7 linked regions of the Homo sapiens genome follow. Changing the gene in region 1 together with any one later gene gives a genetic interaction. Each region holds a gene or a part of one and is shown in the gene's direction. Other genes may lie near its edges. The genes, in order: FBXW7, CCNL1, RPP40, OR51V1, GPN1, MASTL and TMEM126B.

What was found.
Region 2: changes in FBXW7 (region 1) and CCNL1 are lethal when combined (synthetic lethality), as found in Homo sapiens cells (one study listed by BioGRID).
Region 3: changes in FBXW7 (region 1) and RPP40 together harm fitness more than expected from each alone (negative genetic interaction), as found in Homo sapiens cells (one large-scale study listed by BioGRID).
Region 4: changes in FBXW7 (region 1) and OR51V1 are lethal when combined (synthetic lethality), as found in Homo sapiens cells (one study listed by BioGRID).
Region 5: changes in FBXW7 (region 1) and GPN1 together harm fitness more than expected from each alone (negative genetic interaction), as found in Homo sapiens cells (one large-scale study listed by BioGRID).
Region 6: changes in FBXW7 (region 1) and MASTL are lethal when combined (synthetic lethality), as found in Homo sapiens cells (one study listed by BioGRID).
Region 7: changes in FBXW7 (region 1) and TMEM126B are lethal when combined (synthetic lethality), as found in Homo sapiens cells (one study listed by BioGRID).

What each region holds. Positions count from the first base shown.
Region 1 is NC_000004.12:152,407,093-152,410,592, reverse strand, and holds part of FBXW7 (F-box/WD repeat-containing protein 7), read left to right. Parts: intron 1-3,500. UniProt on the Homo sapiens protein: Substrate recognition component of a SCF (SKP1-CUL1-F-box protein) E3 ubiquitin-protein ligase complex which mediates the ubiquitination and subsequent proteasomal degradation of target proteins.
Region 2 is NC_000003.12:157,147,053-157,150,147, reverse strand, and holds the end of CCNL1 (cyclin-L1), read left to right. Parts: coding exon 1-83; intron 84-170; coding exon 171-312; intron 313-551; coding exon 552-663; intron 664-762; coding exon 763-861; intron 862-1,558; coding exon 1,559-1,907; 3' UTR 1,908-2,595; downstream 2,596-3,095. UniProt on the Homo sapiens protein: Involved in pre-mRNA splicing. Functions in association with cyclin-dependent kinases (CDKs). Inhibited by the CDK-specific inhibitor CDKN1A/p21. May play a role in the regulation of RNA polymerase II (pol II).
Region 3 is NC_000006.12:4,997,628-5,001,037, reverse strand, and holds part of RPP40 (ribonuclease P protein subunit p40), read left to right. Parts: intron 1-406; coding exon 407-475; intron 476-1,133; coding exon 1,134-1,229; intron 1,230-2,196; coding exon 2,197-2,322; intron 2,323-3,410. UniProt on the Homo sapiens protein: Component of ribonuclease P, a ribonucleoprotein complex that generates mature tRNA molecules by cleaving their 5'-ends. Also a component of the MRP ribonuclease complex, which cleaves pre-rRNA sequences.
Region 4 is NC_000011.10:5,199,235-5,201,927, reverse strand, and holds OR51V1 (olfactory receptor 51V1), read left to right. Parts: upstream 1-1,245; coding exon 1,246-2,193; downstream 2,194-2,693. UniProt on the Homo sapiens protein: Odorant receptor.
Region 5 is NC_000002.12:27,639,050-27,642,549, forward strand, and holds part of GPN1 (GPN-loop GTPase 1), read left to right. Parts: intron 1-993; coding exon 994-1,076; intron 1,077-2,190; coding exon 2,191-2,230; intron 2,231-2,993; exon of another isoform or gene 2,994-3,120; intron 3,121-3,379; coding exon 3,380-3,470; intron 3,471-3,500. UniProt on the Homo sapiens protein: Small GTPase required for proper nuclear import of RNA polymerase II (RNAPII). May act at an RNAP assembly step prior to nuclear import.
Region 6 is NC_000010.11:27,168,852-27,172,351, forward strand, and holds part of MASTL (serine/threonine-protein kinase greatwall), read left to right. Parts: intron 1-1,092; coding exon 1,093-2,232; intron 2,233-3,500. UniProt on the Homo sapiens protein: Serine/threonine kinase that plays a key role in M phase by acting as a regulator of mitosis entry and maintenance.
Region 7 is NC_000011.10:85,634,315-85,637,036, forward strand, and holds the end of TMEM126B (complex I assembly factor TMEM126B, mitochondrial), read left to right. Parts: exon of another isoform or gene 1-1,191; intron 1,192-1,352; coding exon 1,353-1,464; intron 1,465-1,731; coding exon 1,732-1,915; 3' UTR 1,916-2,222; downstream 2,223-2,722. UniProt on the Homo sapiens protein: As part of the MCIA complex, involved in the assembly of the mitochondrial complex I. Participates in constructing the membrane arm of complex I.

The sequences.
Region 1 (3,500 bases):
CTTGGATTAATAATAATTGAAATGCTAAATCATGTTTTACATCTGCTTGTAAAACCTTACTTTCTAAAATGTGTTTGGCCCTAATTTACCTAGCCTATCTGCAAGTCAGATTTTATTTAGCTGGCATGATCTAAGAAGGACGTGACATCAAGTAGTGATTTTTCATCCATTGTACCATCCCTGTCTCAAGATGTTGAAGCAGTAGCTTTGGATCTCAGCCAGATGGCTCTACCACTAACAACTATAGCACCACTTTGTTAAGGCTCAGACCTTTTATAGTGTCATTCCTCCCTTTTGCCCCCCTAGTCTTGATCATCTTCTTCAAGGTTGCTATATCAAAAGGGAGTTTTAACATCTCTTTTTTTCCTGAGGGTTCAGTTAGAGGAATAGGGGTTTAATACTTAAGGTCCAATTGCACTAACTTATTTCAGAAAGAGGTTCAATCAAAACTAAGCCTTGCGGAACAATGCAGAGTTATTGCTGATTTCTGCTACACTTTAAATTAAAAGCAAAAAAAGCTAGTTAGACAAAACATTATCTTTTTCCAAAAGGAAAAGTCATCCTTATATTCTGTAGGAAACCTTCCAGTTCACAAGTTTGACAGGTGCTTTATCTTTTCTTTACCTTCAAGATGTAAAATTTTGTGTATGATGATTACCTTTTTAAAAACGAAGTATACTGAATTTGTTAGTTTTTTTCTAGTGATTCTGAATCATGAATAACAATTATTGTCCTGTACATATAACAAGAATGGACTGGGCTCTAACCATAGAAGGAATACATGTGTGTATGCATTTATGTATATACACATGTACAGTATAGATGTGTGTATGCATTTATGTATATACACATGTACAGTATAGATGTGTGTATGCATTTATTATATAAGTGTGTATGTATAGTTTTTGATATATTGTTGATCATGAGATGATCTGCCTTCGTAAGTATGGCATGAAGAATACAAAGCTATTTGATTGCCAGGACAGTGATACCCTTCTACAAGTAAGATTTCAGTCTGAAATTTTTCTAAATGTTTTCCTTTTTGTCCATTCCTGAAACCCTTCTGCCAGAGTATTCCCAGAGCACTTTCAACAGCATTAAAAAAAGTCACTGAGTACTGCTTCACCTAAAAAGAAAATGTCAGTATTCTCCGTGTATACATGTTTTAATACAATAAATAGAAGCTCTCACTAGTTGAAGTACTTTATTTTGGAAGAGCTTTAAATTCTTGATCATTATAAAGTTAAGACACTTCTACAGATGTTACCCTAGACCATAGTTTCATTCAAGTCTTCTTTGACTTTTGAGAGTAGAGGCATAAGAAATGAAATCCCATTTTAAATGTTAACATAGGATTAGCTTTCTACAAATTTTACTCAGGATACCTTTCAAGTTTTATTTTTTGGCATTCTCATAAACAAACCCTGTGGACAGCTAGACTGAATTTTACCCATCATCCCTAAATATGCTGCATAAGCAAATATATTAATGAGAAAAAAAGATTTTTAATTCTTCCTTGCATTGCTTTATTCTTTGAAAGCATTCTGAAAACTGTCAACACTCTGAGGACAGTTTTTCCCCCCTTGTCACTAAAGGTTTGTTCTTTTGGGAGCCTTATGGCAAGCAATATATGTTAAAAATTCCATGTTGTCTTAATGTTAAAAGTCAAGGGAAGTGGTAGTCAAGAATTGCTATTTATTAAGCTCACACTGTTTGAAAGATCCTACTACAGATACATAAACAAAAGTTACAGAGAGGCCGAATGATCCACCCCAGATTACACTACGTGATGAGAGATTTTAATCCTGATTTGCCTAATAGCAAAAAACCCCTTTCTCTTTCCACATGCTATGCTGCCCCCTATGGTTGAATTTGACAAACATCACTGAACAAGATTTCCAACATAGTCAGAGACTCTGCCATGTGATGATTTTCTGATACTATGTCCCATTTGAAGTGATAAGAGCTACCCTATAGAAAGGACAGAGGGCTCAGTTAACTACTTTTCTTTGTGGCACTTAACAAAACATTATTGAAGATTTTACAGCTCAAGGCTAAAGTAATCAGGAACAAATGACGCTGTTAAAAAATTTTATAGAGGTCATACTCTCTTGAATCCATAAAACATGCTTTTAAAGCAGAGGTTGTGTGCTGGCTATTCCTCTAAATCTTGCTTCTCCAGATACAAATGTCTGTCTCTTCAGTTTTAACTCTCATTCTCAACATCCTTATCATATTTTTTTAAAAAAAGTTGTTTTCTGAAGATATGCCCAGCTCATATTGAAGAATCTTTGACATATTTTATGCAGAATATCAACTAATTTTCTACTAACATGAAAAACAAATGAGATGATTATTAGGCCAGATCTGGTATCCTGATCTTTTGATGAAGAGAAGTGTGTTTGAGCATTAATTTCTGATGCTTCCATATCTATCTTAGTGGCTTCCACCTGTTCTCTTCTCACATAACTTCCTTACCTCAAATTAGTCTATTTTTTTCCCATCTTGATTGTTAGATTCTTCCTAGTAATTAAATCGTTTTTATCCATTTGCCTCAAATAAGAAATAAATGTTTATCAAAAAATAAATATATATAAAAGATAGCCAGGTGTGGTGGCTCACACCTGTGATCCCAGCACTTTGAGAGGCTGAGGTGGGCAGATTGCTTGAGACCAGCCTGGGCAACATGGCAAAACCCTGTCTCTACAAAAAATACAAAAATTAGCTGAGTGTGATGGCATGCGCCTGTGGTTCCAGCTACTTTGGGGGCTGAGGTTGGAGGATCATTTGGGCCCAGGAGGTTGAGGCTGCAGTGATCTGGGCCACAGAGCAAGACCCTGTTTCAGAATAAATAAATAGAGGGTGGGGGGAGGTGTGGAGAAGCATCTAGTGTATTGGAGTTTAGAGGCGTAAGACCCTTTCTTGTCTATAAATTCTGAACAATAGAGGAATCAGGTAATAGGATCATTAACCAATCAGGGTATCTGGTCCGCCATTCTCCAACCACCTCCTAGGACCAGAGCTGCTGAGCAGCTTTGTAGGATAATGTGGCTAACATTGGAAATATAACAGGGCTCTAAGTTACACTCTGTTGTAGAGTTCTAGAGAATGATAGCTTCTTCAGAAAGTCCCTGGCCTAGTCTACCTGCAAGACAAGCAACTTAAGTTCAAAGTCTGTTTGGTATATACATGTCCAGAGAGCAAAAAATGCTATTTAAGGCAGTCATCTTGAATAACATCCACTAGTAAACATGGCCCAATGAATAGCCATGTCCCCTACCTTTGTGAAGGAGGAAAAATGAAACATTGACTCAGCCTAATTTAGCCCAATTTTAAACATGTGGGGAGGATAATGGAAATGGGAGAAATGGGGACAATGGGTGAGATGGGTTTTCCCCTAACATATTAGAGTGATAAGAACTTTTCACATCTGAGTTTGAATTCTGATTATACCACTTACTGTATAACCATGAGTATATAATCTCAGTGAACCTATTACT
Region 2 (3,095 bases), on another chromosome or scaffold:
ATTGGTTTCTTCTTTTTGGTACTACAGAAGAGGAAATCCAGGAAATCTGCATAGAAACACTTAGGCTTTATACCAGAAAAAAGGTATTCTCTATTTACTCGTTTGTGCCAACATGCTAAGAGTCCAAGCTACTCTAAGGAAGAAATACTAACTTTTTTTTCCTCCAACAGCCAAACTATGAATTACTGGAAAAAGAAGTAGAAAAAAGAAAAGTAGCCTTACAAGAAGCCAAATTAAAAGCAAAGGGATTGAATCCGGATGGAACTCCAGCCCTTTCAACCCTGGGTGGATTTTCTCCAGCCTCCAAGCCATGTAAGATGTATTTAGAATTAAAATGACTTGGGGGCACTGAAAGTGTGTCTTTATTAGAGAGCTTTTACATTTGAAAGTTGCATAGAGAAAAATGATGTTAGGAAACTGCTGCTATGTTCTCTCATGGCAGTCAACCAACATGGAAGCGGAAGCATGGTACTTTGAGTTACATTTAGAAACAACTTTTGGCCCTCTGTTAAATCCAGTAGTTAACATGTTGTTATTATATCTTTTAAAAGCATCACCAAGAGAAGTAAAAGCTGAAGAGAAATCACCAATCTCCATTAATGTGAAGACAGTCAAAAAAGAACCTGAGGATAGACAACAGGCTTCCAAAAGCCCTTACAATGGGTGAGTATACTTGGGCTGGAAAACTGGCTTGAGGAATCTTTTATGTGTTTACTTTTTAACACACTAAGTTTGTAACTAATATGTCATGATTTTTTGAAGTGTAAGAAAAGACAGCAAGAGAAGTAGAAATAGCAGAAGTGCAAGTCGATCGAGGTCAAGAACACGATCACGTTCTAGATCACATACTCCAAGAAGACAGTAAGTAAATGTTTTCTTAGGGAAGCAGTCTTATTTGGAGTTTTTAAAGGTTATTGCTTTTTCTTTAAAAATTGAACATAGATTATTTTCAAAGTTAGGTTAGAATTAGGCTTTTAGTATGAGGCAAATTATGAGAAATGAGTTTGGAGATGTTCTGGACATACAGTATCTTAATGGCATTCTGTTATATTTTCTCCCATGTTTTTTGGAGAAGTGTAGGAGCTACCCACAAAGTGCTTGAGGGCCATAGTATTGTTCATAATGTGAAAACTTCTTTTTTTTTTTTTAATTTCAGTTAGAAAATGTGTTTCATTAACCCCTTATTAATAACCAATAATCAAATTAACCAGTCAATGAATCTTCTTTAGTTAGGCCTGTAATTAGATTGTTAGCTCTTCGTGGCTCTTCAATGTCTTTTGAACATGTGGGAGATACTTAATAAAAAGCATAGCTCTAGGACACTATAAAAATTGCTAATTACTCCCCTTGGAATAAAGACATAAGAACATTTGCTTAAGATTTAATATGTTATATATAGGCTTGGGCATACAGCAGTGAGGGGTGGGGAGATTTTGAAAAGTTCTGGTTTGTCATTTATGTAGCTGGTAGTTTTGTTTTGAACCTGTTATGAGCAACCACCGGAATAATCTGTTCCCCATAGAAACTGAACCTAAACTTCAAATTTTTATTATCTAAGCTATAATAATAGGCGGAGTCGATCTGGAACATACAGCTCGAGATCAAGAAGCAGGTCCCGCAGTCACAGTGAAAGCCCTCGAAGACATCATAATCATGGTTCTCCTCACCTTAAGGCCAAGCATACCAGAGATGATTTAAAAAGTTCAAACAGACATGGTCATAAAAGGAAAAAATCTCGTTCTCGATCTCAGAGCAAGTCTCGGGATCACTCAGATGCAGCCAAGAAACACAGGCATGAAAGGGGACATCATAGGGACAGGCGTGAACGATCTCGCTCCTTTGAGAGGTCCCATAAAAGCAAGCACCATGGTGGCAGTCGCTCAGGACATGGCAGGCACAGGCGCTGACTTTCTCTTCCTTTGAGCCTGCATCAGTTCTTGGTTTTGCCTATCTACAGTGTGATGTATGGACTCAATCAAAAACATTAAACGCAAACTGATTAGGATTTGATTTCTTGAAACCCTCTAGGTCTCTAGAACACTGAGGACAGTTTCTTTTGAAAAGAACTATGTTAATTTTTTTGCACATTAAAATGCCCTAGCAGTATCTAATTAAAAACCATGGTCAGGTTCAATTGTACTTTATTATAGTTGTGTATTGTTTATTGCTATAAGAACTGGAGCGTGAATTCTGTAAAAATGTATCTTATTTTTATACAGATAAAATTGCAGACACTGTTCTATTTAAGTGGTTATTTGTTTAAATGATGGTGAATACTTTCTTAACACTGGTTTGTCTGCATGTGTAAAGATTTTTACAAGGAAATAAAATACAAATCTTGTTTTTTCTAAACTGCTTCAAATACCTTATTTAAATAAATTATTAAAAAGGAAAATTTTAATAGCAAAATGGCTGTACTGGTTTTCTGACAAACTTATTCTTTCCTCCATTAGATGGTAGTTTGAGATTATTAAAATGCAATTCTTAACTGCATTGTGAGCTATTGTAAGTCTTCACTGTATATATGGAAAAAGTAAATGGGAGTCGCCCAACAATGTGACATTAAATGTTATATTTTAGCACTAAACCAAAAAACCTGATTTGCTTTTGAATGGTGTCATAAGGTAATTTTGAGTCAGATTTAAGTACTATTTCTGAAATGAGGTACCCTATTGAATGAACCAAAACTTAGTAACTATTGAGCTTTAACAGTTCTGTATAATTTAGGCATTTAATGTTACGATTTTTACGTAGGCTAGGAGAAAATGTGAGGCCCCTGAACTTGAGTGGTTGATAGAATACAAGCTGATCACAAAGAAGTGAAGTTTTGATGAAAAAGCCGGAATTTCTATCCAGATGAATGTTTTCAAGTTACTCACATTTACTATTTTTTTCAACATTTTGGAAATCAGTTTACAGAGTCAAAATGTTGCATCGCTTTATAATTACACTAAGGTCTCCATTACATTTATTTTACCTACTTTAATTGTCCACTAGACTTGGCTCCAAGTGATTTGTTGCTGTTTCAAGAAATAAAATACACCCACAAAGAGGAAGATGTATTACTGCTAAGGATATTTTTAAAAATAAAGTTA
Region 3 (3,410 bases), on another chromosome or scaffold:
GGCTGTTGGTCAGGGAGTGAACTAGCTGGAGCTTGGTCTTCTGCAAGCTTGGTCTTCTGCATGCTTGGTCTTCTGCATGCTTGGTCTTCTGCATGCTTGTTCTTCTGCATGCTTGGTCTTCTGCATGCTTGGTCTTCTGCATGCTTGGTCTTCTGCAAGCTTTGTCTTCTGCATGCTTGGTCTTCTGCATGCTTGGTCTTCTGCATGCTTGGTCTTCTGCATGCTTGGTCTTCTGCATGCTGCAGCTTACCCTTAGCAGATGTTTGGTTTATTGAGTGAGCTGGAGCAGGGGTAGAAACTGACCTTTAATGACCCGGAAGACTGGTTATCTTGTAAAAATAATCCACTAACATCTTGCAGGTGTAATTTCTTGTTTTAAATTTTTCCTCTGTACTTTCTCTTCCAGGTTCTTGCTATGCACTAACATACAATACACATATTGATGAAGATAATACTGTTGCCCTGCTACCAAATGGTAACACTTTATTTTTTCATCTTTCTTTAATTGTTAAAAAAAAATGCATACTGTAAAAAAAAAAAAAAAAAAGTCAGCTGGGCACGGTGGCTCACGCCTGTAATCCCTGCACTTTGGGAGGCCAAAGCAGGTGTATCACCTGAGGTCAGGAGTTCGAGACCAGCCTGGCCAACATGGTGAAACCCTGCCTCTACTAAAAATACAAAAATTAGCCGGCGTGGTGGCTCATGCCTGTAGTCCCAGCTCCTTGGGAGGCTGAGGCAGGAGAATCGCTTTGAACCTGGGAGGCGGAGGTTGCAGTGAGCCAAGATTGCGCCACTGCGCTCCAGCCTGGGAGACAGAATGAGATTGTCTGAAAAAAAAAAAGAAGATATTCAAAAGAATGAGTATACCATGACTTATTTATTTCATCTTTAGTAGAAATTCAGATTATTTTAAATTTCACTATTATAAATAATATCCTTGGATGTATAATGTATAAATAATATCTGTTACAAGACATGTATACACATAAATAATATTCTTGTGATATAAATAAGATCCTTGTATGCAGTTTGTTACATTGATATCTAACTGCTCAATTTGCCTTGCTTTCTTTTAGTCAGACAACGTAAGTTCTAGTTTTGGTATCTTATGGGAGTTATTATTTGATTTATAGGGAAATTAATTTTGTCACTGGATAAAGACACTTATGAAGAAACTGGACTTCAGGGTCATCCATCTCAGTTTTCTGGCAGAAAAATTATGAAATTTAGTAAGTATCATGTGTGTTCCATCTGTTTCTAATCTTCTTGTGGCAATTTAAATTTAAATGTTTGAATTGCCTCTAATCTCTTTGTTCAAAAAAATGTGGCCTTTTAAAAAAAATCTGTCAAACTTCTGACTCGAGCTTCACAGAGGATAGGATGATGCTTTTAAGTTCATTTCTTTTCAGCTGTAGATGCATTTAATAAAGATTGTAGACTTGGACTGGTCAATTAAATATATATGTTTCGGGTTAAACCTTGGCAGGCCAAGGCGGGCGGATCATGAGGTCAAGAGATTGAGACCATTGTGACCAACATGGCGAAACCCCATCTCTGCTAAAAATGCAAAAATTAGCTGGGCGTGGTGGCGCATGCCTGTAGTCCCAGCTACTCAGGAGGCTGAGGCAGGAGAATTGCTTGAACCCGGGAGGGGGAGTTTGCAGTGAGCCAAGATCGCACCACTGCACTTCAGCCTGGCGACAGAGTGAGAGTCCATCTCAAAAAAAAAAAAAAAAAAAAAAAAAATTCCAAGTACTGAACCCAAGATAGGAGTCTACAACTTATTCTTAATAAAGAATTTCCTTTGGTTTCCCCAAGTCTTTATGATTACTAGTAGAAATTCACCCATGAGTGAAGAGATGTTTTGCTGACAGCGTCTGGCTCGAACATCAATAGCTAAGGCCGCCACATCCATAAGTAGATTAAACCTGACCTCTCAAGGTCCTCTGCCCTTGGTCTTTGACCTAGGAAACATATAAATTGAAAATGTCTGTTTTTATTAGCTCTCAAGGTTAGAAGTGCCCACCAAAGGGATCTTATTTATTTGGCAAACCAAAGGGAGTGGAAGAAGAATAAAATAATTTTACTATCCATAAAATTTCCCAAAATTCTAGTTTTTAAAAATGTAACACTTTTTCCATGGTAGAAGCTGTACGTATATGAATGAAATATATGTTCTTTTTTTCATTTTTAAAGTTGTTTCCATTGATTTGATGGAATTATCCTTAAACTTGGATTCTAAGAAGTATGAAAGAATATCTTGGTCTTTCAAAGAAAAGAAGCCATTGAAATTTGATTTTCTTTTGGCTTGGCATAAAACAGGTATGAGGAATAAATTATGTAATGATACAGTGATTTTGAAAGTAATTGTTAATTAAAGAGGAGTAATGGAGGATTGAATGGTGATTCACTCTTTAGTCAAGGAATATTCTATACGTATATATAAAAATATTATTAAGGAAACTAGCCCTTCTGACATCTCTGAAAACCATAGTTCAGGATCATGTAGGCACGCAGGCCTTTCTGCCTGCGTCTCTTTGGGTTATATGTAGATCCAGAGATCTTGAGAGTGGCTTCAGAGCAGCTAAATTTTATCTATTTCTCCCCTTTCCTCTCTCCAGCTTACCTTGAACAGCCTTGACTATAATATTTTTAAGTAGCACCAATTATATACACAATCTGCTTATTTATTATCACAGGGTACTGACTCAGGCCTACCATTAAATGTCAGATGAATTTATTCTAACTTTTAATTGATTAGGACACTAAATTTAGTTCAAAGTTTGCTATTCACCACACAGCGTAATCTGCCTAAAACGGCCATGTATGTTGCTCCTTTTAGAAGTGTATCTTTGACCCAGATAATAATGGATCAAGTCATCAGGAATTATGGTGTAGTACTCTCTTTTGGAGGATAGGAAGCATGGTGGTCTGTTTTAGAAATAGCCCCATCTGTCTGCTCCTCATGGGAAGTGTCTCGTCACTGGGTGCTCCAAGTTGCTCCCATGAGTCCTAGGTCTGGCCTTCGGTGCCTCTCCTTCCATATATGGTAGATAGAAAAGAGGGCAGAAAGGCTTATTGAAGTTTCAGTTGCGTGAAGTCTTCTATGCAGATCATCCAGACGTTGGATTCTGGATAGCTCCCTATTCCTAAAGCTCCTAACTATTTTAAGGATTTGTCAGGACTGTGAAAGTTCTGAGATTTCCTCATACTTGCAGGCTAACTAGGTAGCCTGCTACAGTCTCAGGGATGCTGGCAGAAGACACATAAGCCCTGGGTCAGAGACACAGGACTTAATTCCTCAGAGGAATGGTAGTAGCCAAAATGTATTAGTCAGGGTTCTCCAGAGAGAAAGGACCAATAGGATGGATGGATGGATGGATGGATGGATGAGAGGAGATTTATTAGGG
Region 4 (2,693 bases), on another chromosome or scaffold:
TAAAAATAGTGAGCTAAGTTATTCAATGCTGAGAAGGAGTCAGGGCAAGAAAAACAATGGTTAGACTGCTAGAAGACGTCAGTGTAGTATAGAGAGTACATTGAGAAGAAAGTCTGTGGAACTGTGTTGTGAGGCTAATAAGACAAAGCTGAAAAGTAGGACATAAAGGGCAGCCCAAATCTGAAGTTACTTTAACATCTCGAAGTTACTCAATCAAACATGAAAGTATGGACTTTTGAACATCTGTTTACATTATTAGAGCTTTAAAAAAACTTATGATGATTCTCAGGTCTGGAACTTAAAGCAGGCAAACAATGTAAAGAAGAAGCCAATTGATTCTGCTACCATGAGGCTTTTGAAATTATAAGCTTGCTTGTTTGAGCCTGGCTTTGTGATCTGTAGAACTGCAGGTTCTAAGAAAGAAAACACAATTGGCCAATACATTGAATAAATGTATATTGAATAAATAGTTAATCAGCTCATTAACTGAATAAATAAAGGAATGGGAAGCACTGAGCTGCTATCAAAGGCTCAGTGTCTTCAATCTAATTCTCTACATCACAAAGGCACAAATGAGTTGAACATCTCAAGAGGCCAGAGCTCCAGTGAGAAATCATTTACCCAAGGTCTCATGCATAAATATTCCTGTCTGCTTATCACCAATGAAGAAAAAGTAATTGCTGGCTACGTCATCTGGAGGGGGAGAAAACAGGAGTATCTTCATTAAATAGTATTTGGAGAAAAAATATACTTGGAGACGGCACAAAATGGAAAATGACGGAAAAGTGACTATTTAATAGACTTATGATATTTAAAGCCCAAAGATTACTCTTCACTTCGAATGTTTAATGAATTGGAGAGAAGAAAATAATTTTTCAAGAACCTCGGCTCTTTACTGGTATAAAATTTTTACCACTATCCTTGGGAAAATGTCTAAGCAACGTATTTTTTTAAAACTAGCCTTCTCCTTTTACTAATCTCTTCCTTATTTGTTTTTGCTTATGGCTTCTAAGGATATGTTCACATCCAGACAGTGAAAAAATAATGACTTTTAAATGACATCAAAAGAAGACCATTTTCTCAAAGGCAATGGATACTATGTCTCAAAGAAACAGAATTTCTCAGCTGTTTTTTTTAAGTCAGTAAGTTTTAGGGTATTTCATTTACTTAGAAATTTCATTGTATTCAGGTGAAATTGAAACATTTCCTTTGAAAAAATACTCTCACATGTTTCTCAGTTCCAGAATGATTACTTCAGTAAGCCCTAGCACCAGCACGAATTCTTCCTTTCTTCTCACTGGATTTTCTGGCATGGAGCAGCAATACCCCTGGCTTTCCATCCCCTTCTCCTCAATCTATGCCATGGTGCTTTTGGGCAATTGCATGGTTCTCCATGTGATATGGACTGAGCCAAGCCTGCACCAGCCTATGTTTTACTTCCTGTCCATGCTGGCCCTCACTGACCTGTGCATGGGGCTGTCCACTGTGTACACAGTGCTGGGGATCCTGTGGGGGATCATTCGAGAGATCAGCTTGGATTCCTGCATTGCCCAGTCCTATTTCATCCATGGTCTGTCCTTCATGGAGTCCTCTGTCCTCCTCACTATGGCCTTTGACCGGTACATTGCAATTTGCAATCCACTACGTTATTCCTCCATCCTGACTAATTCCAGAATTATCAAAATTGGGCTCACTATAATAGGTAGGAGTTTTTTCTTTATTACACCCCCCATCATCTGTCTGAAATTTTTTAATTACTGTCATTTCCACATCCTTTCTCACTCTTTCTGCCTGCACCAGGATCTTCTCCGCTTAGCCTGTTCAGACATCCGATTCAATAGTTACTATGCCCTGATGCTGGTTATTTGCATACTGTTGTTGGATGCTATACTCATCCTTTTCTCCTACATCCTGATTCTTAAGTCAGTCCTGGCAGTTGCCTCTCAGGAAGAGAGGCATAAATTATTTCAGACCTGCATCTCCCACATCTGTGCTGTCCTTGTGTTCTACATCCCTATCATTAGCCTCACAATGGTGCACCGTTTTGGCAAGCACCTTTCCCCCGTGGCCCACGTTCTCATTGGCAACATCTACATCCTTTTCCCACCTTTAATGAATCCCATCATCTACAGTGTCAAGACCCAACAGATTCATACCAGAATGCTTAGACTCTTTTCTCTGAAAAGATATTGAGAGATATTGAGATGTATTGCCTAAAAAAAAGAAAGAAAAGCAGCAACAATAATAAACAAAAATCAGTGCCATAAAAAAGAAAAAATTATTAAAATTGTAGATTTACTCTGAGTCCATGACAAATGACCTTAAAAAATATTTAAATATAGTCAGAGAATCAACAAACAAGTTCCATTGTGTCAGCCTGGACACATGTAGGTCACTCTATCAGTCTGACCATATTTAAGAAAGAGGAAAAAATTGTTTATTTGCCTGAAATGTACTTTTGAGCATTTCCTTTGCTGTAAAACAAAGCTGGATTAAAAACCTAGGTTTTCAAGTTTCAAAGTAGAAAACTTGAAGTTTCTTTCATTCTCTGAGGTTTACTTAATTAACCTTCAAAATGGAGACTATAGCCAACTCACAGGAATGTTGTGATATCTGTATGGACCAGAATTGTCCAAGGGAACTTTTCTAAACTGATGGCGATGTTCTATAAAATACCATAAAATGGCTAAAGT
Region 5 (3,500 bases), on another chromosome or scaffold:
TCACACTGACAGCCTCTCCAGATAATCTGTTAACCCATAGGATTGGCTTTGAACCTGGCTGAGAAAGGAAGCTTATTACCTACTGAAAAGTAACTTTTAAAGCATTGCTTATTAAAAATTGTGGAGTGTACAAGAAGAATAAGATAGGGACCCCAGCTTCAGAGTTTATAGTCTATTTGGGAGAGAAGGCTACACACAGAATTAAAACATATGATATATTGTAGTAAGTACCTTAAGAAAGATTGGAAGTTGGGCCTGATGATTGTGAGGCGGCAGATCAAAATGACAGATTTTGGAGGATGTAGCATTAGAGGTATGCTTTGAAGAAGGGTAAGATTTATGTAAGCAAAGGCAGAATGGGTTAATTGCCCAAGGAAAGACATAGACAAAGCAGAAAGTGATTTGGTTTGGTTTGTTAGGGAATAGATAATAAGTCCTGTTAATTGTTCAGTCCTAATTATCTTTTTTTTTTCTTTTTTCCCTTTGGAGAGAGGATCTTGCTTTGTTTTACCCAGGCCAGAGTGTAGTGACAGGATCACAGCTCACTGCAGCCTTGACCTCGTGGTCTCAAGGGATCCTCCTGCCTCAGCTTACCAAGCAGCTAAGACTATAGGCGTGTGCGGTATACCATACCCAGCTAATTTTTTATATTTTGTAGAGACTGGGGTCTCGCTATGTTCCCCAGGCCAGTCTTGAATGCTTGGCCTCAAGTGCACCTCCTGCCTCAGCCTCCCAAAGTACTGGTAGTATAGGCATGTGCCACTGCACTCAGGCCATATCTTTCTTTTTCAATTTTTTATTTTCCATGGACTTATTTCTGTGACTTTTGACTGGGTGTGCTGTTTTGTTCTTTTTTAGCCTGGCTTTTTGCCAAAGACTTCTCAAAATATAAACCACTCTTACTAAGATTTTATGACATTTAAACAAGTTAATGTACTTCATTAAAAAATATACAATGGTTTCTTTAGTGGCATTTATGATGCTTTTTGGCAGGTGGTGGGTGTCTCTGCTGTTCTGGGTACTGGATTAGATGAACTCTTTGTGCAAGTTACCAGTGCTGCCGAAGAATATGAAAGGTGAGGATAAAGGAAAATTCTATTGATGACATTCTTAATAACCTACAATTCTGATATGAAAGCAGTTTTTCCAGGAAAAGCATTACATTTTCATGATGGATGTATTATATTTGGTTTGCATATGTGTATTGAATCAGACCACACTTAGGGGTGACAAGTTCCCTTTAAATTTTGTTTTTTTTAAATAGAAGTATAAATCTTCATTGTATTGAGTGATTAAGAGCAGGGATCATCAGACTTTTCTGTAAAGAGCTAAACAGTAGGTAGCTCAGGCTTTGTGGGTCATATAGTCTCTGTTGCAACTGCTCACGTCTGCCATTGTAGGACAAAAGCGTCCTCAGACAATTTGTAAATTAATGGGCGTGGCTAGTGTTACAGAAAAACATTTATGAAAACAGGCAGTGGGCTGGATTTGGCACTAAGGTTGTTGTGAAGATTGAGAAAACGTATACAGCACTTATCACAATTGCTGACATATAGTAAGCACATTTTATAATAAATGTTATAACTATTGTCATTGTTAATACTGGAATTCAAGTAAAGAAAAGTGGAGTCAGAGCCCTGTGCACTTTCCTTAGGCCTGTGGCATGATAGCCGGCTTATTAGTGTCATGTGTCTTTGGCTTCATATTTTGCAAGATCCTAACAACCATATTTTGGTTTTCAGACATGTTATTTTGATTTTGATTCATTAGACACAAGGGTGTTATCAAAACCTTAGGATAGACTCTTTTCTGTATCCTTTCACTGTTGTTGTTCAAGTAAAGCACATAATTGTATGTTGCACGTCCTGAGCTCAACAGGCTTATCTTTTACTTATCTCACCCTTTTATCTCAAATGAATGGTGAGTTCATCAGTCATGTTCTCACCAATATTAATCTTTCCAGCCCAGCAGTCAGGATTGTGTCTCCTGGTTCCAAGGTGGGAGCGGGCACCTTGGCTTTTAATTCCATTGGGTAGACTCTGTCAGTGACTAAGATTTGTTACATCTGATGTTGAATGAAGTCAGATGTTTTATTATTGTCAGTCTTAGGAAAATAGAGATAAGGGGATGTGGAGAGTCAGTAGGATAGAGGATTAAGCAAAGGAATTTAGAAAGTGTTTCTCTTTACAGGGAGTATCGTCCTGAATATGAACGTCTGAAAAAATCACTGGTAAGAAGGGAGGCTGTTTGTATATTTTAAAAGGGCCATTAAAAAAACCCAGCTCAATCTTGATGACATAAGTGCTTTTGTTTTGGTTATTAATGTATCTTTTATTTAATTAAAAAAGTTTTTTTTGTAGCTTTATTGAGGTACAAGTGGCTAATGAAATTTCAGTGTATCTTCTAAATACTTGTTAATTTAAATTTGTAAATTTGTATGTATGTTGTCTGGGTGCGGAAAGTCTCCTTAATGTTTCTTCCCTTTCAGAGGTCAATTTAAAGCTAGTTGTAGAATTTTGTATAAGAGTGTAGTGGTGCTTCACAACTCCTTTTCTTGTTGTTGAGAAAGGGTCTCACTCTGTCACCCATGCCAGAGTGCAGTGGCACGATCGCGGCTCACTGCAGCCTCGACCTTTTGGGCTTAAGCGATCCTCCCATCTCAGCCACCCGAGTAGCTAGGACAACATGTATGTACCACATGCCTGGCTAATTTTATTTTGTAAATTTTTTGTATAGACAAGGTCTCACCGTGTTGCCCAGGCTGGTCTCAAATTCCTGAGCTCCTGCAGTCCTCCCTGCTGGGCCTCCTGTAGTGCTAGGATTACAGGCAGGTGCCACCATGCCCAGCCTTCTCTTATCCCAAATGATCGAGTGTCCTGCTTCCTTAGGCTCATTGGATCCTTTGTCTCTGAGCCTTCCTGCTATGTCTACTTCAGGTTTTTGTGTTTTTTTTCCCCCATATAATAAAGTTTATTGTATCTTTTGTTTTTTCATTTTGTAGGCTGGGGATGAATAAAGAGTAATGCTTTCTATGTAGGCATTTTGCCTAGCCAGTTTAAATGTTCCAGTTCAATTAACAGAGCAGGGGATCCACCCTGGACTGAACTCAACACTTTAGAATTGAGGGTTCTTTTGAAACCTTTTTGTGTTCCGTTTCTGAACCCTCTAAATCAGTCTGCAGAGCCCTCCAGTCTAAACTTCTGCAGTAACCCAGGCCCACGCTACTTAGTGTTTCTGTCCCTATACCAGACGTCCCTTATCTGCATCAGTTTTTATGTAGCCTCTAGTATTTGTATAATTCTTCATCTCCACTGAGAAGTCTGGCATCTAATTTGGGACTCCTTTTTGAATATGATGACATTTTTCTCTGTATATACAGGCCAACGCAGAGAGCCAACAGCAGAGAGAACAACTGGAACGCCTTCGAAAAGATATGGGTTCTGTAGCCTTGGATGCAGGGACTGCCAAAGGTATTGGAGGGTTTCTTGGTGTTAGGAACT
Region 6 (3,500 bases), on another chromosome or scaffold:
TATTACTAAGTTAATGATAGTTAATAAAGTTTACTATTCATTTACACATCAAAAATAAGCACTATTAGAGTTTACTGAAGACTCACTCTACTTGACTAATCTTGTAAAAATCTTGATCACCAAGCACCAATTTGCAATATTATATACAAAGCTGAGTACCCACAAATACCCACAGATAGTTGGAATTCAGAAAAAAAAATCATTATTAATGCATTATCAGTTCATCTTGTTGACAATGGACTTTAATTTCTGCTCTTTGGGGTTTGTAATTATTAATTACCATTAATGTCATTTCATCCTTATCAGCTTGGTTTTTTAATACTTATATGAAGTGATATATATTTACACTGACAATATTTTAGGTCTATAATTTTTCATTGACTAAATTTCAAGCCCTGTGCATTTTGCAGTTCAAAACAGAATCATCCAGGCCAGGTGTGGTAGCTTACACCTGTAATCCCAGCACTTTGGGAGGCCTAGGCAGGTGGATCACCTGAGGTCAGGAATTTGAGACTAGCCTGGCCAACATAGTGAAACCCCATCTCCACTTAAAAAAAATTATGCAAAAATTAGCCAGGTGTGGTGGTGTGCCCCTGTAATCCCAGCTACTTGGGAGGCTGAGGTGGGAGAATTGCTTGAACCCAGGAGGCAGAGGCTGCAGTGAGCTGAGATCGCACCACTGCACTTCAGCCTGGACGACAGCAAGACCCCATTTCAAAAAAAAAAAAAACAGAATCATCCATATACCTATTGCAAAATAGATATGTACGTAATGCAGCCTTACCCCAAAATGTGCCTGAATATGTTGCCTGTTAATTTGTCCTGTTTAAGTAGCCTGTGATATACAATCAAAATAAGTATTATAGAATAATTTATTTAAAGTTTAGACCGTTTCATTCAGAATAATGTATATAAGCTTATAATTGCTTACATTGCTTTTTAATTCTCTGTTGTTTATTTTTTCCATTTGAAAGTGGCAACAGGTAGCATAATAGTTTATGGGGTCATTTATCCTACCTTAACGGACCATAGTTAAAAGGTCAATGAATCTCAGCTTTATATAACTAAAACAAATATTTTTTTCCCTCTTAGGAAAGTGATGAAGCATTGGGCCCAACAATGATGAGTTGGAATGCAGTTGAAAAGTTATGCGCAAAATCTGCAAATGCCATTGAGACGAAAGGTTTCAATAAAAAGGATCTGGAGTTAGCTCTTTCTCCCATTCATAACAGCAGTGCCCTTCCCACCACTGGACGCTCTTGTGTAAACCTTGCTAAAAAATGCTTCTCTGGGGAAGTTTCTTGGGAAGCAGTAGAACTGGATGTAAATAATATAAATATGGACACTGACACAAGTCAGTTAGGTTTCCATCAGTCAAATCAGTGGGCTGTGGATTCTGGTGGGATATCTGAAGAGCACCTTGGGAAAAGAAGTTTAAAAAGAAATTTTGAGTTGGTTGACTCCAGTCCTTGTAAAAAAATTATACAGAATAAAAAAACTTGTGTAGAGTATAAGCATAACGAAATGACAAATTGTTATACAAATCAAAATACAGGCTTAACAGTTGAAGTGCAGGACCTTAAGCTATCAGTGCACAAAAGTCAACAAAATGACTGTGCTAATAAGGAGAACATTGTCAATTCTTTTACTGATAAACAACAAACACCAGAAAAATTACCTATACCAATGATAGCAAAAAACCTTATGTGTGAACTCGATGAAGACTGTGAAAAGAATAGTAAGAGGGACTACTTAAGTTCTAGTTTTCTATGTTCTGATGATGATAGAGCTTCTAAAAATATTTCTATGAACTCTGATTCATCTTTTCCTGGAATTTCTATAATGGAAAGTCCATTAGAAAGTCAGCCCTTAGATTCAGATAGAAGCATCAAAGAATCCTCTTTTGAAGAATCAAATATTGAAGATCCACTTATTGTAACACCAGATTGCCAAGAAAAGACCTCACCAAAAGGTGTCGAGAACCCTGCTGTACAAGAGAGTAACCAAAAAATGTTAGGTCCTCCTTTGGAGGTGCTGAAAACGTTAGCCTCTAAAAGAAATGCTGTTGCTTTTCGAAGTTTTAACAGTCATATTAATGCATCCAATAACTCAGAACCATCCAGAATGAACATGACTTCTTTAGATGCAATGGATATTTCGTGTGCCTACAGTGGTTCATATCCCATGGCTATAACCCCTACTCAAAAAAGAAGATCCTGTATGCCACATCAGGTATATTTATAACTTTCTAATACTGTTTTTTGGATTTTAGAAAAACTATGAAGACAGACATTTGCCTCTAAGCTAGACTATGCGGTATTAATCATATAGTTCTGTTCTTCTTGTTGAGAATCTGTGGGCTGTTGGAAGTTTTCACCCAGAAAAGTAAAGCTGGTAGAAATCATGTTTATTATTTTTAGCTGTAATGCCTCCTTCCATTTGTGTCGTTTTATGTACTTTCCTAAGAAAATACAATCACATATTTTCACTTGATCCCCACAGTACTATGAGTTACAAAATTAATTTTCACTTGATCCCCACAGTACTATGAGTTACAAAATTATTATTATTATTATTATTATTATTATTATTATTATTATTGAGACAGTCTCGTTCTTTTGCCCAGGCTGGAGTGCAGTAGTGTGATCTTGGCTCATTGCACACTTCACCCCCAGGTTCAAGCGATTCTCCTGCCTCAGCCTCCCAAGTAGCTGGGATTATAAGGGGCCCACCACCACACCTGGCTAATTTTTGTATTTTTAGTAGAGTCGGAATTTCACCATGTTGCCCAGGCTGATCTCAAACTCGTGACCTCAAGCAATCCGCCCACCTCGGCCTCTCAAAGTGCTAGGATTACAGGTGTGAGCCACCTCACCTGGCCAGAGATAATTTAAGTCCGCTCTACCTTACTGCCTTCCAAGGACATATTTAGATGATCTCTTCTTAAGAGAATAAAAGTTGAAAAATATGTTTCTTTTTTTTTTTTTTTTTTTTTTGAGACAAAGTCTCGCTCTGTCACCAGGCTGGAGTGCAGTGGCGCGATCTTGGCTCACTGCAACCTCCGCCTCCCGGGTTCAAGCGATTCTCCTGCTTCAGCCTCCTGAGTAGCTAGGACTACAGGCATGTGCCACCATGCCCAGCTAATTTTTGTATTTTTAGTAGAGATGGGGTTTCACCACGTTGGCCAGGATGGTCTCGATCTCTTGACCTTGTGATCTGCCTGCCTTGGCCTCCCAAAGTGCTGGGATTACGGGCATGAGCCACCATGCCCAGCGAAAAATATATATTTCAAAGCTTACTCTCTATATTCTAAACCTTTACCAACCCAAAGTTTTACTTTTTTTCTTCCTTTGGGAAAACATCATAACATAAAATGTGTAACCCCTGAATTTATGTTTCGAAACTTGAGTTTTCTACCCAAGACTTACTATTAAATGACTTAGAAGTCCCTTAACCTCAGACCTGCAATTTTTCTAAATGTCTGTAAGGGATAATGGCAC
Region 7 (2,722 bases), on another chromosome or scaffold:
GTCTAAGTAAAGTTACTTATTAACATATACTGTTGCTACTGCTAATAATAATTCTTTACATTTATATATTGCTATACAGTTTACAAAGTCCATATACCTTGTCATATTTAATCCCTGCAACAATCCTCCTAATCAGGTAAACTGTATTTTTTTATTTCTGTAGATAAGCAACCCAAACTGAGGCATGTTCAAGTACGCTAATAAGCAACATACTGGGAAAAGAATTGGCTGTGGCATACAACGCACATCATTTCAGTATGCTACCTCCTGCCACTTAAGTTTTGTGACATTCAGTAAGGCATTTCATCTCTGAGCCTCCGTTGTCTTATCTATAAGTTAGGACTAATAGTACTTACCTCACAGGATTGTTGTGAGAATTAAAAGATACTGTAGGTTAAATGACTACCACAATATCTGTCATATTATGGGCTTTTAATGTTATTTCCTGCCCCTCACCTTACCTTGAGTTTCACAACTAGTAATTGATAGAGCATCTATCCCTTGTTCATTCTTCAGGTTCCTGCTTAAGTATCTTTTCCCCAGGGAGACCTCTGATTGCCTCATTGTACACTAGGTGTCTGGATACATTCTCTATATAGTTTATCTTCAAAGTATTGTGTACACTGATAATTATCTATTTAAATATTTATCTCGTGTCTTTCATCTCTGTAAACTGGCCAGAAGGTCAGAGATCAGGTCTCTTTTATGTACCACCGTATTCCTAGCTCCTAGCACGTTCCTGATATATAGTAGATAATAAAAATGTATTAACCTAGAATCCAGGTCTGGTTTGCTAGTTTAGTATTGTCATTATAAAATTGTTTCTGGCTGGGCACGGTGGCTCATGCCTATAATCCCAACACTTTGGGAGGCCAAGACAGGCAGATCACTTGAGGTCAGGAGTTCGAGACCAGCCTGGCCAACACAGTCTCTACTAAAAATAGAAAAACAGTTGAGCATGGTGGTGCAAGCTTATAATCCCAGCTACTTGGGAGGCTGAGGCATGAGAATTGCTTGAACCCTGGAGGCAGAGGTTGCAGTGAGCCGAGATCGTGCCACTGTACTCTAGCCTGGGCAACAGAGTGAGACTCCGTCTCCAAAAAATAAAATAAAATTGCTTCTACAACAACCACATACGTTAGAGGTAATTCTCTATGTGATAAAGTATAATAAAAACTTTTTAAAATGTGCTGCATTTGGCCTGTTATATGCCACAGAGTTTGAATTTCTAATATTCTTTCTATGGTTTAGTTGTGGTTGAGGATAGTGCAGATAACTACTCTGTGAGGTACAACACTGTCTTAATAGCTCTTGAGTTTTAAAGGAAAACCAAATTTACTTTTGTTTTCCAGATAATATAAGCAAGGAAAACTGTGTTTTCAGAAGCTCACTGATTGGCATAGTTTGTGGTGTTTTCTATCCCAGTTCTTTGGCTTTTACTAAAAATGGACGCCTGGCAACCAAGTAAGTTCTTCCTTTTCCTTCTTTTTTCTTTTCTTTTCTTTTCTTTTTTTTTTTTTTTTTTAGGTTAATAAACTCTCTTTCTTCTTTAGCTGTCTATGATATATTTGAATCAAAATGTGGTAGTTTGGTATTTCAGATAGCTAACTTTTAACTTTTTTGCTCTCTACATTATAGATCTAGAAAGGCAATTATCAATTTAGGAGAAGTCAACAAACTTCTAATAGCATTCATATCCAGGAGAGGTGATTAACTCTTTTTTCTTTTTAGGTATCATACCGTTCCACTGCCACCAAAAGGAAGGGTTTTAATCCATTGGATGACGCTTTGTCAAACACAAATGAAATTAATGGCGATTCCTCTAGTCTTTCAGATTATGTTTGGAATATTAAATGGTCTATACCATTATGCAGTATTTGAAGAGACACTTGAGAAAACTATACATGAAGAGTAACCAAAAAAATGAATGGTTGCTAACTTAGCAAAATGAAGTTTCTATAAAGAGGACTCAGGCATTGCTGAAAGAGTTAAAAGTAACTGTGAACAAATAATTTGTTCTGTGCCTTTTGCCTGGTATATAGCAAATACTCAAAAAGTATTCAATAATTCAATCAATAAATATAAGTTTCATCTTACACGTAAGATACAGGTCTTATCTCCTGATGGTGTGTCCATTTTGCCTGGTATATAACAGATAATAAATATCCAGTGTCAATAAATGTAACAATAAAAGTTTCATCTTTCCTCTTTGTATGTGGAAATGGGTTTGGGCTTTAAGGTCTCATCTGTGCAGTTATATATTCATTCATTCATCAAACATTTATTGAGCTATTTCTCAGGCACTGTGTTAAATATAATAAGAAACATTCTGGCTGGGCATGGTGGCTCTCGCCTGTAATCCCAGCACTTTGGGAGGCCAGGGAAGGCGGATCACCTGAGGTTAGGAGTTTGAGACCAGCCTGGCCAACATGGCAAAACCTCGTCTCTACTAAAAGTACAAAAGAATTGGCTGGGCATGATGGTGTATGCCTGTAATCCCAGTTACTTGGGAGGCTGAGGCAGGAGAATCGCTTGAACCCAGGAGGCGGAGGTTGCAGTAAGCTGAGATCTCACCACTGTGCTCCAGCCTGGGCAACAGAGCAGAACTCCATATCAAAAAAAAAAAAAAGAAAGAAAACAAACATTCCTTACCTAGAAGGAACTCAATTGAGGAGGAGTAAGTGTGAACACATACTATGAGAGGATTTGAGAGGTATACACA